2 linked regions of the Homo sapiens genome follow. The protein of the gene in region 1 interacts with the protein of each later gene in a pairwise test. Each region holds a gene or a part of one and is shown in the gene's direction. Other genes may lie near its edges.

Evidence for each region. Proteins that work in one complex are often made in the same cells at the same time.
Region 2: the proteins of ST13 (region 1) and CD209 interact in binary tests that used the Homo sapiens proteins (3 or more experiments, as listed by UniProt).

What each region holds. Positions count from the first base shown.
Region 1 is NC_000022.11:40,853,081-40,861,887, reverse strand, and holds the start of ST13 (hsc70-interacting protein), read left to right. Parts: upstream 1-5,248; 5' UTR 5,249-5,347; coding exon 5,348-5,457; intron 5,458-8,807. Other genes in the region: DNAJB7 (dnaJ homolog subfamily B member 7), read left to right, coding at 1-823; XPNPEP3 (xaa-Pro aminopeptidase 3), read right to left, coding at 4,643-4,706. UniProt on the Homo sapiens protein: One HIP oligomer binds the ATPase domains of at least two HSC70 molecules dependent on activation of the HSC70 ATPase by HSP40. Stabilizes the ADP state of HSC70 that has a high affinity for substrate protein.
Region 2 is NC_000019.10:7,739,493-7,744,693, reverse strand, and holds the end of CD209 (CD209 antigen), read left to right. Parts: intron 1-474; coding exon 475-587; intron 588-1,453; coding exon 1,454-1,655; 3' UTR 1,656-4,701; downstream 4,702-5,201.

The sequences.
Region 1 (8,807 bases):
AGAAAATAAAGAAGAAGCAGAGAGAAAATTCAAAGAAGTAGCTGAGGCATACGAGGTATTATCAAATGATGAGAAACGGGACATTTATGATAAATATGGCACAGAAGGATTAAACGGAGGTGGAAGTCATTTTGATGATGAATGTGAGTACGGCTTCACATTCCATAAGCCAGATGATGTTTTTAAAGAAATTTTTCATGAAAGGGATCCATTTTCTTTTCACTTCTTTGAAGACTCGCTTGAGGACCTGTTAAATCGTCCAGGAAGCTCCTATGGAAACAGAAACAGAGATGCAGGATACTTTTTCTCCACTGCCAGTGAATATCCAATTTTTGAGAAATTTTCTTCATATGATACAGGATATACATCACAGGGTTCATTGGGGCATGAAGGCCTTACTTCTTTCTCTTCCCTGGCTTTTGATAATAGTGGGATGGACAACTACATATCTGTTACAACTTCAGACAAAATCGTTAATGGCAGAAATATTAATACAAAGAAAATTATTGAAAGTGATCAAGAAAGAGAAGCTGAAGATAATGGAGAGTTGACATTTTTTCTTGTAAATAGTGTGGCCAATGAAGAGGGCTTTGCAAAAGAATGCAGCTGGAGAACACAGTCATTCAACAACTATTCACCAAATTCTCACAGCTCCAAACATGTATCTCAATATACTTTCGTGGACAATGATGAGGGAGGTATATCTTGGGTTACCAGCAACAGAGATCCCCCTATTTTCTCAGCAGGAGTCAAAGAGGGTGGTAAGAGGAAAAAAAAGAAGCGTAAAGAGGTGCAAAAGAAGTCTACCAAAAGGAATTGTTAAATTGACTCTTCAAATATATAACATTTGAACACAATTGTGTGTGTTTTGGTTAATCACAAATTTTGTAGATAACACTTAATACTATACTAAGAGCTTTTCAACACTTTTAGCAGGATTGTGGACATTTGGTTAGTAGTTTTTTTGAATGGGTATGTCAGAAAAGGATGAGTTTGTGGTGACAGTTGGTGCTAATAAGAATTTGCCTGGGCAGTATAGTGAGATCTTTTCTCTACAAAAAATTTAAAAATTAGCCAAGTGTGGTGGTGTGCACCTGTAGTCCCAGCTACTCGGGAAGCTGGTAGAAAGACTGCTTGAGCCTGGAAGACATAGGTTGCAGTGTAATGGGATCACGCCACTGCACTCCAGCTTGGGTGACAAAGTAAGACCCTGTCTTAAAAAAAAAAAAAAGGAATTTGGAAAACTGCAATGAGTTTTTTACTTTTGAATTTTTCTTTAGTAGAGTTTATAGCCTATTTTTCTTTTTTCTAATTAAAACCACTATACAAACTTACGAAACATGCATAGCATTAGAAGACAAGAATGTATCAAGACACACAGGTTCAGACTACACAATTATTCATGAAATGGCTGTTTTCCAATGGAGGAACAGCATTTGATGCATTATAACTTAAAGGTACTACAAATTAAAAATTAAAGTATAAAGTATTTTAAGTTAGAAATAGACTTAGCTGGGTGCAGTGGCTCACACCTGTAATCCTAGCATCTTGGGAGGCCCAGGCAGGAGGGTTGAAGTCAGAATTTCACGACAGTCCGGGTAACATAATGAGACCTGTCCTCTATGAAAAAACTTTTTTAAAAATTTAGCTGGGTGTGGTGGTACGTGCCTGTAGGCCTAGCTACTTAGGAGGCTGAGGTGGGAGGATTGCTTGAGCCCAGGAGTTTGAGGTTGTAGGGAGCTATGATCTTGCCATTGCACTCCAGCTGAGAGTGTGACCCTGTCTCTAAAGAAAAACTATAGAAAATTTAAAAAATTAAAAAACGGGTAACATGGTAAATTTTATGTAGTATATTTTACCACATTTTTTTTAAAGGCCAGTCTTATCCTGAATTCCTCAGAGCAGTCTGTATGGTAGGCCATCAGTGAATCACTCCAGACAGGAAATTTTCTATTTTTGTTTAGAGTTTGTACACAAAATCTACAAATACATTACTCTAAAATAGCACCTATAGCCATTTTAATTTAGTCATGTTGGGAGAAAAATAGATGGGTTACAAATACATCAGATATCGAGCAAATGGTTTGAGTTACATCTAGCAGCACTAAAACTTATTCAACTTTGGCCAAATACAAATGCGAAATTAGAAAAAAATTATAATATCTGCTATTTTTAAAAGACAGCTATAGTCAAGAGCTTGTGTTTTGTATCGGTATTTGATTTTTAGTGGGCAGATGGGAGAAGGAAAGGTTATTTATTCTATAGAAGAGACTGCGGACAATTAGTATTCAAAGTTTATTTTCAGAAAATAAAATAATAAAAGCCCAGGGTATTTTAAATGCTTCTAATATAAGATGTGATATTTAGTAGAGTTTATCTGTTATCATGCATGTGGTAGTAAAGTTGAAAAAAAAATTGCAATTTTCCAAAAACTAAAGCAAAAATCAGTGTCTCAGAAAATTTAAGAATGTAATGACATGCCCTGTAGTCCATTTCTTCACTCTTAACAGAAAACCAAAAATTTAGATTTAATCATCTTACTCAATAGCTTAAAATTCCTCAAAGTTTTCCCACCATCTAAAGGAAAAAGCTAATTGTTTGCTTAACATAATATACAAGGCCCTCCACGAGCCAGCCACCAGCTTTTTTCCCAACTTGATTTCCTATCAGCTCCTTGTACTCATCTTATGCTCTAGCCCAACTTCTCCCAAAATCTGTTCCAGGGATACCAGTTCAAGATTCATCACAGAAAAGGGGTCCATGGTCAAATACATTTTTACACATTTTGCAAATTACTGCGGAACACATCTCTCAGAAACCTAGACTATTAAGGGCTGGGTGCAGTGGCTCACACTTATAATCGCAACACTTTGAGAAGCTGAGGTGAGAGTTCAAGTTTACTTTGGGCAACATGGCAAGACCCCATCTCCAAAAAAAGAATTAAACTATTATGTACATTATGAAAGGCAGCATTCCCCAAAAGTATTTGATCACAGAATCATTTTCGTGTAATGCCTACTATTTTGTTTGAGAACATCTTTCAAAAAATCTTTTCCTAAGCCGGGCGCGGTGGCTCACGCCTGTAATCCCAGCACTTTGGGAGGCCGAGGCGGGTGGATCACGAGGTCAGGGGTTCAAAACCAGCCTGGCCAAGATGGTGAAACCCCATCTCTACTAAAAACACATAAATTAGCCAGGCGTGGTGGCGGGCGCCTGTAATCCCAGCTACTCGGGAGGCTGAGACAGGAGAATCGCTTGAACTCGGGAGGTGGAGGTTGCAGTAAGGCAAGAGATCGCGCCACTGCACTCCAGCCTGGGCGACAAGAGCAAGACTCTGTCTCAAAAAAAAAAAAAAAAAAAAAAAAGCTTCTCCAGCCATACTAAACGATTGCAACGCTTAGTGCTGGCCACTCCGTTTTAGAGTTCTGTGCCTTTGCAAGTGTTCCTTCTGGTAGTATGGCTCCTTTAGTCAGGCTGGGGAGAGCCTTTCAAATAAAAGCAAATTCCAGGCCTGGGGCGGTGGCTCAGAGAGGAGGGTGGATCGCTTGAGGCCAGGAGTTCGAGATCAGCTTGGCCAACGTGGCAAAACCTGGTTTCTACTACAATTACAAAAATTAGCCAGGCGTGGTGGCACACGCCTATAATCCCAGCTACCTCGGGAGGCTGAGGCACGAGAATTGCTTGAACTCAGGAGGCAGAGGTTGCAAATGAGCAGAGATTGCCACTGCACTCCAGTCTGAGCAACAGAATGAGAGCCTGTCTCAAAAAAAGACTGAAAAATTGCACATCTTTCTTTTCACCTAATCCCACGGAGAGTTGTCTTTCTGCAGCTTTACTATGAGAACTGAAGAACAAGTTCTGTGCACTGGACAATAACTTTTTATTTTTTATAGTAAGAAGTCGATGTAATTAACATTCCATTTTAAATGAATTCAAGTATATCAACATAAACATATGCCAAGACATAGCTTTGATGTCAAATACCATACGTTCTGGTTCACACATTGTTCATATATTGACCCAAAAAACTGAAATACGATCCAATGGCAGATCCGCCTGCAAGGAAGGTGATTCAGTTTTCACTGATTAAGCTTTATGTTCATCAGATTAATTGCTCGCAATAGAGGACACCCTACAAAAAATTATTCTCCTTATCCTTCGTCTTGTCTTTGCAAACAGGACTTTCAGACACAGAACGCCCCAGAAGTATTTCGAAACAGTTACCTCTCCTAAGAGGAGCTGCTGAAAGAATTTGTTACTAAACATGCTTCGTGTATATTCTGGAGCAAGCTCTCACGCCTAACAGAAACAAGAGCTACTTGATGTGAGACACTTTGTCACTTAAGTGTGATAATTGCCACAACTTCGGAGTCCGAGTAACTTGGAAGACAGCCCCTCTGGGGGATGGCACACTTTTCTCTCTGCAGTCATTTCGGCTTCACAAAATACCTCAACGGTAGAGAACACACTGGGCCCACCCCTTTCCAGGAGCAGCCGGTATAGAAGAAATCCGCGGAGCACAGAGGGTTGGGGAGCGGAGGCCCCACCAGGAGAAGGGTCAGCCGAACCAGGGATCGCCTGAGACCAACTTGGGTCCCTCCAGGGGACACCATGGGAGGAGACCGTGGGAGAAGAGTCTAACCTGAGAGGCCGCGGACGTTTGCTACAGCGGGAACCAGCTTGGGGGCTGAGAGCAGCCAAGGCATTACGGCCTAACTCACGCGTCGGGAAGAGAAAGAGGGTAACGACGGGGAACGCAACCGCCTGCAGGGCCGCGTCGCCAGGAAACCGGGCCAGCCGCACCTCCCCTTCCGGCGGAGGCGGCTCGCGGGCCTTCCTTGCGCGGCGGCGCAGGTTGTGACGTCATGCCCCGAGCTGGGACCGACCCTCCGGCTCCACGCCCTTTTTTTTTTTTTTTTTTAGGTCCCGGGCGTTGAGCTCTACTCAGTGCACGCAGCCACACAATATGCTCTTGGACGTCGCCCCCTGGAGGGGATGTTATCTCCCGCCTCCTTGAAGTCGCCCATTTCTGGGGTTGCCCCATCCAGGGAGCTGGTTCCTAGTTAAGAATATGAGAATGTATGCGCAGGGAGGCAGGCAACAGCACGAACAGCCACGCTTCTAGAAGATTCTAGGGAGCGCGCAGGAGCAGCGCAGAGGGAGTAGGAATGAGCAGGCGGAGGACCCGAGGTCACGAGACCGTTGGGTGGGAGGAGCCAGCGGCCGGGGAGGTTCTAGTCTGTTCTGTCTTGCGGCAGCCGCCCCCTTCTGCGCGGTCACGCCGAGCCAGCGCCTGGGCCTGGAACCGGGCCGTAGCCCCCCCAGTTTCGCCCACCACCTCCCTACCATGGACCCCCGCAAAGTGAACGAGCTTCGGGCCTTTGTGAAAATGTGTAAGCAGGATCCGAGCGTTCTGCACACCGAGGAAATGCGCTTCCTGAGGGAGTGGGTGGAGAGGTGAGACCCAGGCCTGAGGACCGTTGGGGGCGGGGGAAGCACGGCCCCAGGGGGGAGCCAGGCTGGACCTGGCTCGGTCCGGCGGGCGAGGCGGGGTCGCTGCCCCTTCTTTGCCCGGGAAAGGGAGGCAACTTCGAGGGGTCATGGAAGATCGCGAGCCTTGGGTAGTACAGGAGCCGCGGGGAGCAGGAGGCAGAGCTGGGTTCCTCGCACCCTGAGGTTGCCCAGGGGTGTATCTTGGGCGAAATACAAAAACAGGACTGCGGATGCGTGGACACTGGAGACGCGAGGAGTGAAAACTGCAAGACTTAGATTTTGCGTGGGGTTGTTTTTCTTTCAGTCTTGTGTGCCCTGCTCAGGTCTCATTGGTACATAGCAGTTCCTTTACGCACTATTCCTTTACGTCGTGTTATAATAATATAACACTAGTAAGTTAAAAGTTACAAAACTAGTAAGAATAAAAATGATAACTGTAAAAATGATTGTTTTTACCTTACAGCGTTTGTAGCTGCGTAGGATTAATTATCTTGAGAATCACTTATTATACCTCCGTTACTTGGCAGTGTTATCACTCCAAACACGTCTGAGAAAAATAATTTCTTAAGGCCTGGCATGTTTCCAGGATATAATCTTGTTGTCTTTAACTGTAGAGTACTTCGCTACGTGCAAGGAGTTAATTGACAAGGCATTGTGCCTGGTGCTAGGAAACAGTATAAGTACTGTCTATTTAGACGAATAAATAGAAAAGTTCGTTTTGATATTTACTATATAATAGTAATTAGCATTTTATGTGTTGAAGGAGCACCGAAGAGAAAAAGTGACAGGGAAGTCTTCCCTAAGATGACTTTTTAAAAAATTATTACTAATGGGGAACTGAAAAGATGACATACAAATTGCACTAAACAGGGATAAATAGCAACTATGCAGACCATTGCGACTCCTAAGAGGTGCTGCTGTGAACGTTATGTGTTTAGTGACTTTTGTCTTTTAGAGACAGGGTTTGGCTGTATTGTCCAGGCCGCATACAGTGGCGGGATCACTGCAGCCTCCAATTCCTGGGCACAAGCGATCCTCCTGCATCAGTCTCCCAGGTGGCTAGCAGTGCGGGATCGAGCCACCATACTTGGCTAATTTAATTTTTTTGTAGAGATGGGGGTCCCATTAAGTTGCCCAGGCTTGTCTTGAACTCCTGGCCTCAAGGGACTCCCCCGCCTCCCAAAGTGGTGGTATTACAGGCGTGAGCCACTTCACCCAGCGTGATATTTTTGTGTGGGAAGATGAGCTCATGATTACCAAATAGCTCAAAGAATATTTCTTAACAACAATCTGGTTCTAAGGAAAAAACTCGTTACAATCTGTCAGCGTTGTATGTTGTATTTTTTTCCTCTAAGAAGTTTTTCAATTTTTAGCTCCCCACCAATTGTCTAACTACTGGAAGACTTACTTATATGTGAAATTCTGAGACCATTTAATATTACTATGTTAATAGTAACTTTATGAATATTGGTAAGAAGTCTATTTTGCAAACTCCTCAACCGGGAAATGTCAGGATTAGGAATTGAGGGCTAGGTTTTAGTCGTTTTCTCTATTGAACAGCTTGATGATCCAAAAGCCTTAAGATATTTGTATGCTTTTATCCTAATTATAGGAAAGAACCTGCAGTTAATAAATTCTTTCTAAAATTCCAGGTAACGTAGACAAGTATCACAGGAAGAAAATAGCCGGCTCCAAGAGCTGGCTCCACTTTACATTAAGTGGATACAATGTTTTTGTTTCATTCTTACTAGTGAGGAAGAGGAGACACAGAAGAACAAATTAAAAGCATGTGTAAGAACAGTGTCCTCCTGACTTGTGCTGGAGTGATTGTGCCTATGTAGAGAATTCCACTTTAAGGTTTGCAAAATATTTGTCAGGCACTACTATCTCCCAAACAAAAACAAGAAATAGTCATATACCTTATTTTAACATAGGTAATTCCAGTTTTTCTTTCTGATTCCACTTACATTCTTTAGCCATCCTGAGTTGGCTGAAGTATGGGGTGAAGCATCATGGCATATGTAGGGACTTTATTCTGAACTTAAATTGAGATATTTAATATAGAAGCTTTTTCTCTTTATTTCTGTATTTAAACTAAGATTTTTATAAACTCTGAGGCCTTTGCGTTTGTGTCAGTTTCTCTCTCTGCCTTCATCAGTCTGCAGTTCGAGATTGTGGCAGATGGGGCTGAATGTGGAGACTTCTAGGTCCAGACGTCTTCCTAGGCCTGATGCTACTGTTAGGGTTACTCAAGTTGAAAACATGTGTTTCTCACAGGCTTAGCTGTTGAAGAACAGTACATCTGCCTATTTGCTATAATTGCTAGCATTGTTTATAGCTTAGTTTTATTTGATATAAGGATTTATTAGTTTAACCTTTTAAATTGCACAAAGAGAAATACTAAAAGTCTTTCTGAACTAGTTGTCAGTGAGGATCCAGGAGACTGTTCTTTTCAAGAACTGTGTTTTGAGATATTTTTGTTTTTCCCTTTTTAGAGACAGAAGCATTCTCCCACTCTATTTTCTCCCGTTTAACAATTTAGTATCTTGTATGTGGTTTCATGGCTTTACTTGATGGTAATTAAGATCGAAGAGAGTGTCTTTGTTTTCTACTCCCTAGTACAGTACGTGGCACATGGCTTTTCCTAAATGTTGTAAAGGAAATGAACAGAATGCATTTCTACCCTCAATATAGAATTTAGAGTGTAGCAACCAATTTTTTGTACATGTGTACAAATAACCATAGCACAAAGCAGATTAGAAGGTTATCAAATTAAGAGAAATGTGAATGAAGTTTTATGTGGTCCTATGTGAGAAAAGTCTCTACACTGGTCCTACTTGATTGTGTAACATAAAAAAGCCTGTAGTGCCAAAGTCTAAGTGGCAGTTTTTGGCCAGAAAGTAGCTTGTTCTAAGCCTTGGAAGCATTAATTGAAATTTCGTACCTATGAGTTGGTGTTTTCTTCCATTAGTTAACTAGAATTTGGGATGGGAGAAACTAAATCTAGCTTATGAGTAAATCCTCTTTTTTTTTTAAAGTTTTTATTTTTTTTGCAACAATTTCTAGCTCAGAAAAATTGCAGGTATGGTACAAAGGAATTTTTTCTGAACTAGTTGAGAGTAAGCTGCCAACATTATACCCCAACACCAGTGAGTGTGTACTTCCTACAAAGTCTTTACAATGCAAATACTAAACTTAGGAAACTAATGCTGATGCATTTATGCTATCTAATCCTCAGATTTATGTGTTGCATTTAGTTGCCATGTCACGTAGTCTCCATTCTGAAACAGTTCCTCAGTCTTTCCTTGACTTTC
Region 2 (5,201 bases), on another chromosome or scaffold:
ACAACCAGCTCTCTGGAGGAAGAAGTCCTGATGGGTCGTGTTTGCCAGTTTCCCTGGTGTAAATATTCCCATGGTGGCTGATTTCAAGCTGTCGTTGTGATGTCACTCAGTGCAGAGCTGAAAGGAGATGTGCATGACCAGCAGTTAGGAAATGGTTGCCTCTGGCTCCAACACATTAAGCCCAGTTATGAGTAAATGTGCATGGACATGCACAGAACATGTGAAATGGATAAACATGCAGTATTAGCAAGAGGGTGTGAGGAGAGGCCAGCTGTGCATGGATGTGTGCATGTCAGGACACATGTGCCGTGGGATACACATGTGAGAGGGACTCAGACACGAGGGGGCTCAGGACCTAGTATACCAGAAGGCTGTAGGTTAGCCTACAAGCAGAACTTCCTACCAAGAGATGGGGAGACAGAGCCTGGAAAATGGGAAGCAGAGCTCCCTCCTGACTCCTCCTGTACCCTCCAGAACTTCCTACAGCTGCAGTCTTCCAGAAGTAACCGCTTCACCTGGATGGGACTTTCAGATCTAAATCAGGAAGGCACGTGGCAATGGGTGGACGGCTCACCTCTGTTGCCCAGGTAGATCTCAGAAGGGGCACCCTATCCACTGGGGCTGGAATTGTGAAACTCTGATTTGAACTTTCCCTGGGGATCCTCCCCAACTCCCTGACACCCTAGACCCAAGAATCTGGAGGTTTTACTGAGTTGAGGAAGGTGGTCTTCATACCCACTTCCAGACAGCATGGCAGGTGCCTAGAATTCCACCAGCAGAGCTGCAGGAGGAGCCTGCCACCGGGGAGGTGTATTAAAATATAATGTATTAATAGGAAGTCTGAGGTCCAGTAAGGCCACCAGCTCAGGAGACACCTGCCATTGTGAATAGCTTCTCATATACACAGATCCCTAGAGAGAGGACACATCACAGCTGGGGGCCACCTGGGGAAGCACCAGGGTCTGTTATGAGTCAGAGTGGTGGGGAGGGGGGACTGTGGGCCAGAGCCTTTATTATGGTTTCTGTGGAAAGGAAAGGTCAAGGCCAGGTGAACAGGCTTAGGATTGGGAAGTGTGAAGCATTTTTTGGGCTCTGGGGCACAGGGGCTGCCCCTCGCTGTCTGACACCTGGCCTTGGGGTGATTAGTACAGGATAGTGGCTTGGAGTACAAGAGCCCAGTAAGGCAGGTCGCTGGAGGTGTGGACTCCAGACTGGTTGGCTTGTATTTGAAAATCACACACTCAATAGGTGGAGTCCACCCAAGGACAGGTTGTGAGAAGAGAGGCAGGAACTCAAGGCATCGTGAGTCAGGCATATTATCAGGTATGCAGAGGGATTCAAGTCCAGCATACACACGCAGGGCAGATGTTAAGGCATCAAGATGACAGAAGGTAGAAACACAGCTCATGTAGCTGGCGGGGACAGAGGCTCACATTCCGCATGGGCTTTGCAGCTTCAAGCAGTATTGGAACAGAGGAGAGCCCAACAACGTTGGGGAGGAAGACTGCGCGGAATTTAGTGGCAATGGCTGGAACGACGACAAATGTAATCTTGCCAAATTCTGGATCTGCAAAAAGTCCGCAGCCTCCTGCTCCAGGGATGAAGAACAGTTTCTTTCTCCAGCCCCTGCCACCCCAAACCCCCCTCCTGCGTAGCAGAACTTCACCCCCTTTTAAGCTACAGTTCCTTCTCTCCATCCTTCGACCTTCACAAAATCTCTGGGACTGTTCTTTGTCAGATTCTTCCTCCTTTAGAAGGCTGGGTCCCATTCTGTCCTTCTTGTCATGCCTCCAATTTCCCCTGGTGTAGAGCTTGTTTTTCTGGCCCATCCTTGGAGCTTTATGAGTGAGCTGGTGTGGGATGCCTTTGGGGGTGGACTTGTGTTCCAAGAATCCACTCTCTCTTCCTTTTGGAGATTAGGATATTTGGGTTGCCATGTGTAGCTGCTATGTCCCCTGGGGCGTTATCTTATACATGCAAACCTACCATCTGTTCAACTTCCACCTACCACCTCCTGCACCCCTTTGATCGGGGACTTACTGGTTGCAAGAGCTCATTTTGCAGGCTGGAAGCACCAGGGAATTAATTCCCCCAGTCAACCAATGGCACCCAGAGAGGGCATGGAGGCTCCACGCAACCCCTTCCACCCCCACATCTTCCTTTGTCTTATACATGGCTTCCATTTGGCTGTTTCTAAGTTGTATTCTTTATTTTATTATTATTATTACTATTTTTCGAGATGGAGTTTCACTCTTGTCGCTCAGGCTGGAGTGCCATGGCGCGATCTTGGCTCACTGCAACCTCTGCCTCCCGGGTTCAAGTGATTCTCCTGCCTCAGCCTCACGAGTAGCTGGAATTACAGGCAGGCGCCACCAGACCCGGCTAATTTTTTGTATTTTTAGTACAGATGGGGTTTCTCCGTGTTGGTCAGGCTGGTCTTGAACTCCCGACCTCAGATGATCTGCCCGCCTCGGCCTCCCAAAATTGCTGGGATTACAGGTGTGAGCCACCGCGCCTGGCCTATTATTTTTTGTAAGAATAAAACAGGTTTATTGGGATTTGGGACTCTGAACAGTTCTGTCTCTACTACCTGATCTCCTCCTACCACGACTTTGGGATCTAGAGGAGCTTTGGCTCCGGCTGTGACGGCTCCGGCCGTTCTCACTGCGGCTGCACCGGCCCCCGCTGCGGTCACTATTTCTTCCTCTGCTAGGTGAATTGTGCCTCTCCTGGCTCTTTGACATGTGCTAGTGAGATTTCTTCCTTTTCCTTTCGGATTCCCCATTTCTTTTGTAGGAATGGTCTGGACTAGGGTTCTCCTTCCCCGCAGCCTGTAGTATTCATCGTGGTGGCCCACCCTCTCTCTCCCCTTGGAGCTCTTGCCAAAGGAGGAGACAAGCAGAGGTCTCTATTGGATTTCTCAACACCTGAAGAAAGTTGCAGTGTTTTCCTCTTGGACATTGTTGTATTTCAAATAAACCACAAATCATCATTTTCCACCGAGCCACTGGGCAGAATTCACACTGAAGCTGTCGTCCTGCGTACATACCATCGTCCGTTAAACAGAGAAAGAGCTGCTTGGCATTCTTCTTCCGACTGGTACTGAACATATATACTTGCCCCTCAGGTGAGGTTCCAAGTTGCAACTGACCTTGAACTGAATCACTCTCCCCACGTTATTTTTTAATTACTATTTTTTTTTAAAGATGGGGTCTTGCTCTGTCGCCAGGCTGGAGTGCAGTGGCGCGATCTAGGCTCACTGCAACTTCCGCCTCCCGGGTTCAAGCGATTCTCCTGCCTCAGCCTCCCGAGTAGCTGGGACTCCACTAAAAGTACAAAAATTAGCTGGGCGTGCACCACTGCGCCCAGCTAATTCTTGTATTTTTGGTAGAGACGGGGTTTCAACATGTTGACCAGGATGGTCTCGATCTCTTGACCTCGTGATTCGCCCGCCGCGTCCTCCCAAAGTGCTGGGATTACAGGCCTGAGCCACCGCGCCCAGTCTCTCCCCACGTTCTTGAACTCGGGCAGCACATCCTCACAGAAATCTAGGAACTGTTGGTAGGTTTCTTCCTCGCTGTACTCCAGGCTTGCTTCGGAGTCATAGTCATCCCTCCTGCACTGCTCCTTTCCAAACACTGTAAACATGCTTTTAATAAGAAGGGTAGGACTGGATGTTGGGAAATCATGTGAACATCTATCTCCAAATCTGCAAGCTCCTGTTTTACTGTAGAAGGGACAATTAACTCCATCCTTCTCCATGACTCTGAAATCCAAGGGGGGGTTCCGGGTTTTGCCATGTGGCGCCATTTTCCAACTCATTTTCAGCCTGATCCAGCATCTTCTGGACAGCTTCCGGTTTTTGTTTCTTCTGTCGTTTCTGTTCCTCCTCCTCTCTCTCTTTCCTCTGCTGTTCTTCCCATTGTTCCTTTAACTTTCGCTCTTGTTCTTGCCGTTTTCTAGCCACCTCTTCCTTTTCCTTCTTTATTCTGAATTCTTCTTGTGCCTTCTGCTCTCTCAGCAACCACTCCTCATGTAATCTTTGCCTCTCTCTTCCCCATAGCTTTTCTAGTTGTTGTTTTTCAATAAAAGTGTCCTCCTCTTTCTGTGAGAGTCCTGAGTCCCTCAGTGGAGCAAGTTCCTGCTGGCGTTTCTTTCGTTTCTCCTTCTTCAGGGCGGCCCTGTACTTTTTGTGGCTTGGTTTCTCTGGAAATGTCACCTTTTCGGGCGCAGCCATCTTGCCGGCACCGCCCCGCCCCTCTAGTTGTATCCTTTATAATAAACTGGTAAACATTGTAACCGCAGATTCAGCCCAATCTGGTTCAACTTTGTGTAATAAAATGGCGAGTTGTTTTTCAGTTGTCGTGGACCCCCAGGTTGCAAGTTACATACCCTGGGCATGTCCAGATGAACGAAGCGTGCAAATCCACGTGGAACCTAAGTGCTCAGACCGAGGAACAGGGACTGAGTTAAGAAGTGGACACCACGTGGCATGATCCTTGATCCAATCAGATTGAGCCCTGGCGTGATCCAGTCAGATCAAGCCTCCTGAATCCCCTCATTACAAGATCCAATCATATCATGCCTCACTACCCTCTGTATATAAAATCTGCCCCAGCCTCCAACTTGGAGAGACAGATTTGGGCCAGACTCCTGTGTCCTTGCTTGGCTGCCTTGCAATAAATTTTTCTCTCTACAAAACCCCAGTGCTTCAGTGTTTGGTTTTCCACTGTGAGCCAGGGAACTGACCCAATTTAGTTCGGCAACAACATAAGCAAAATGTTTTCCCGAGTTCTCTAAATCATTCTAGGAAATTACTGAACTTGAGATGGACTTATGGGAAGCCACAATTTTTTGCCAGCCTGGCAGAAGTGTGGGTAGACAGTGCAAAGACTGTCTTTGCACCTGGCATCTGAAGCAGGGTCAGTCTTTTGGGACCTAGCCCTTTAATTTGTGGAATGTGGTGCTAACTCCAGGAAGCTAGTGTTAGAATTAGAGAATTTCTTTGGTGTAAATAAGACACCACAAACATCACTTCCTTTCTACTGATGTTGACCCCAAAGATGCACCTTCATAAACAGCTTGCAAGCTAAATTCCGTCTTACTTAAGAGTTGACCTTCAACAGGCAGAGGAACTGTGAGGCTTGTTCTATGTCGTCTCCCAGAGGCTCCCAGGGGGATTGGACCCAATTGCCCTTTTC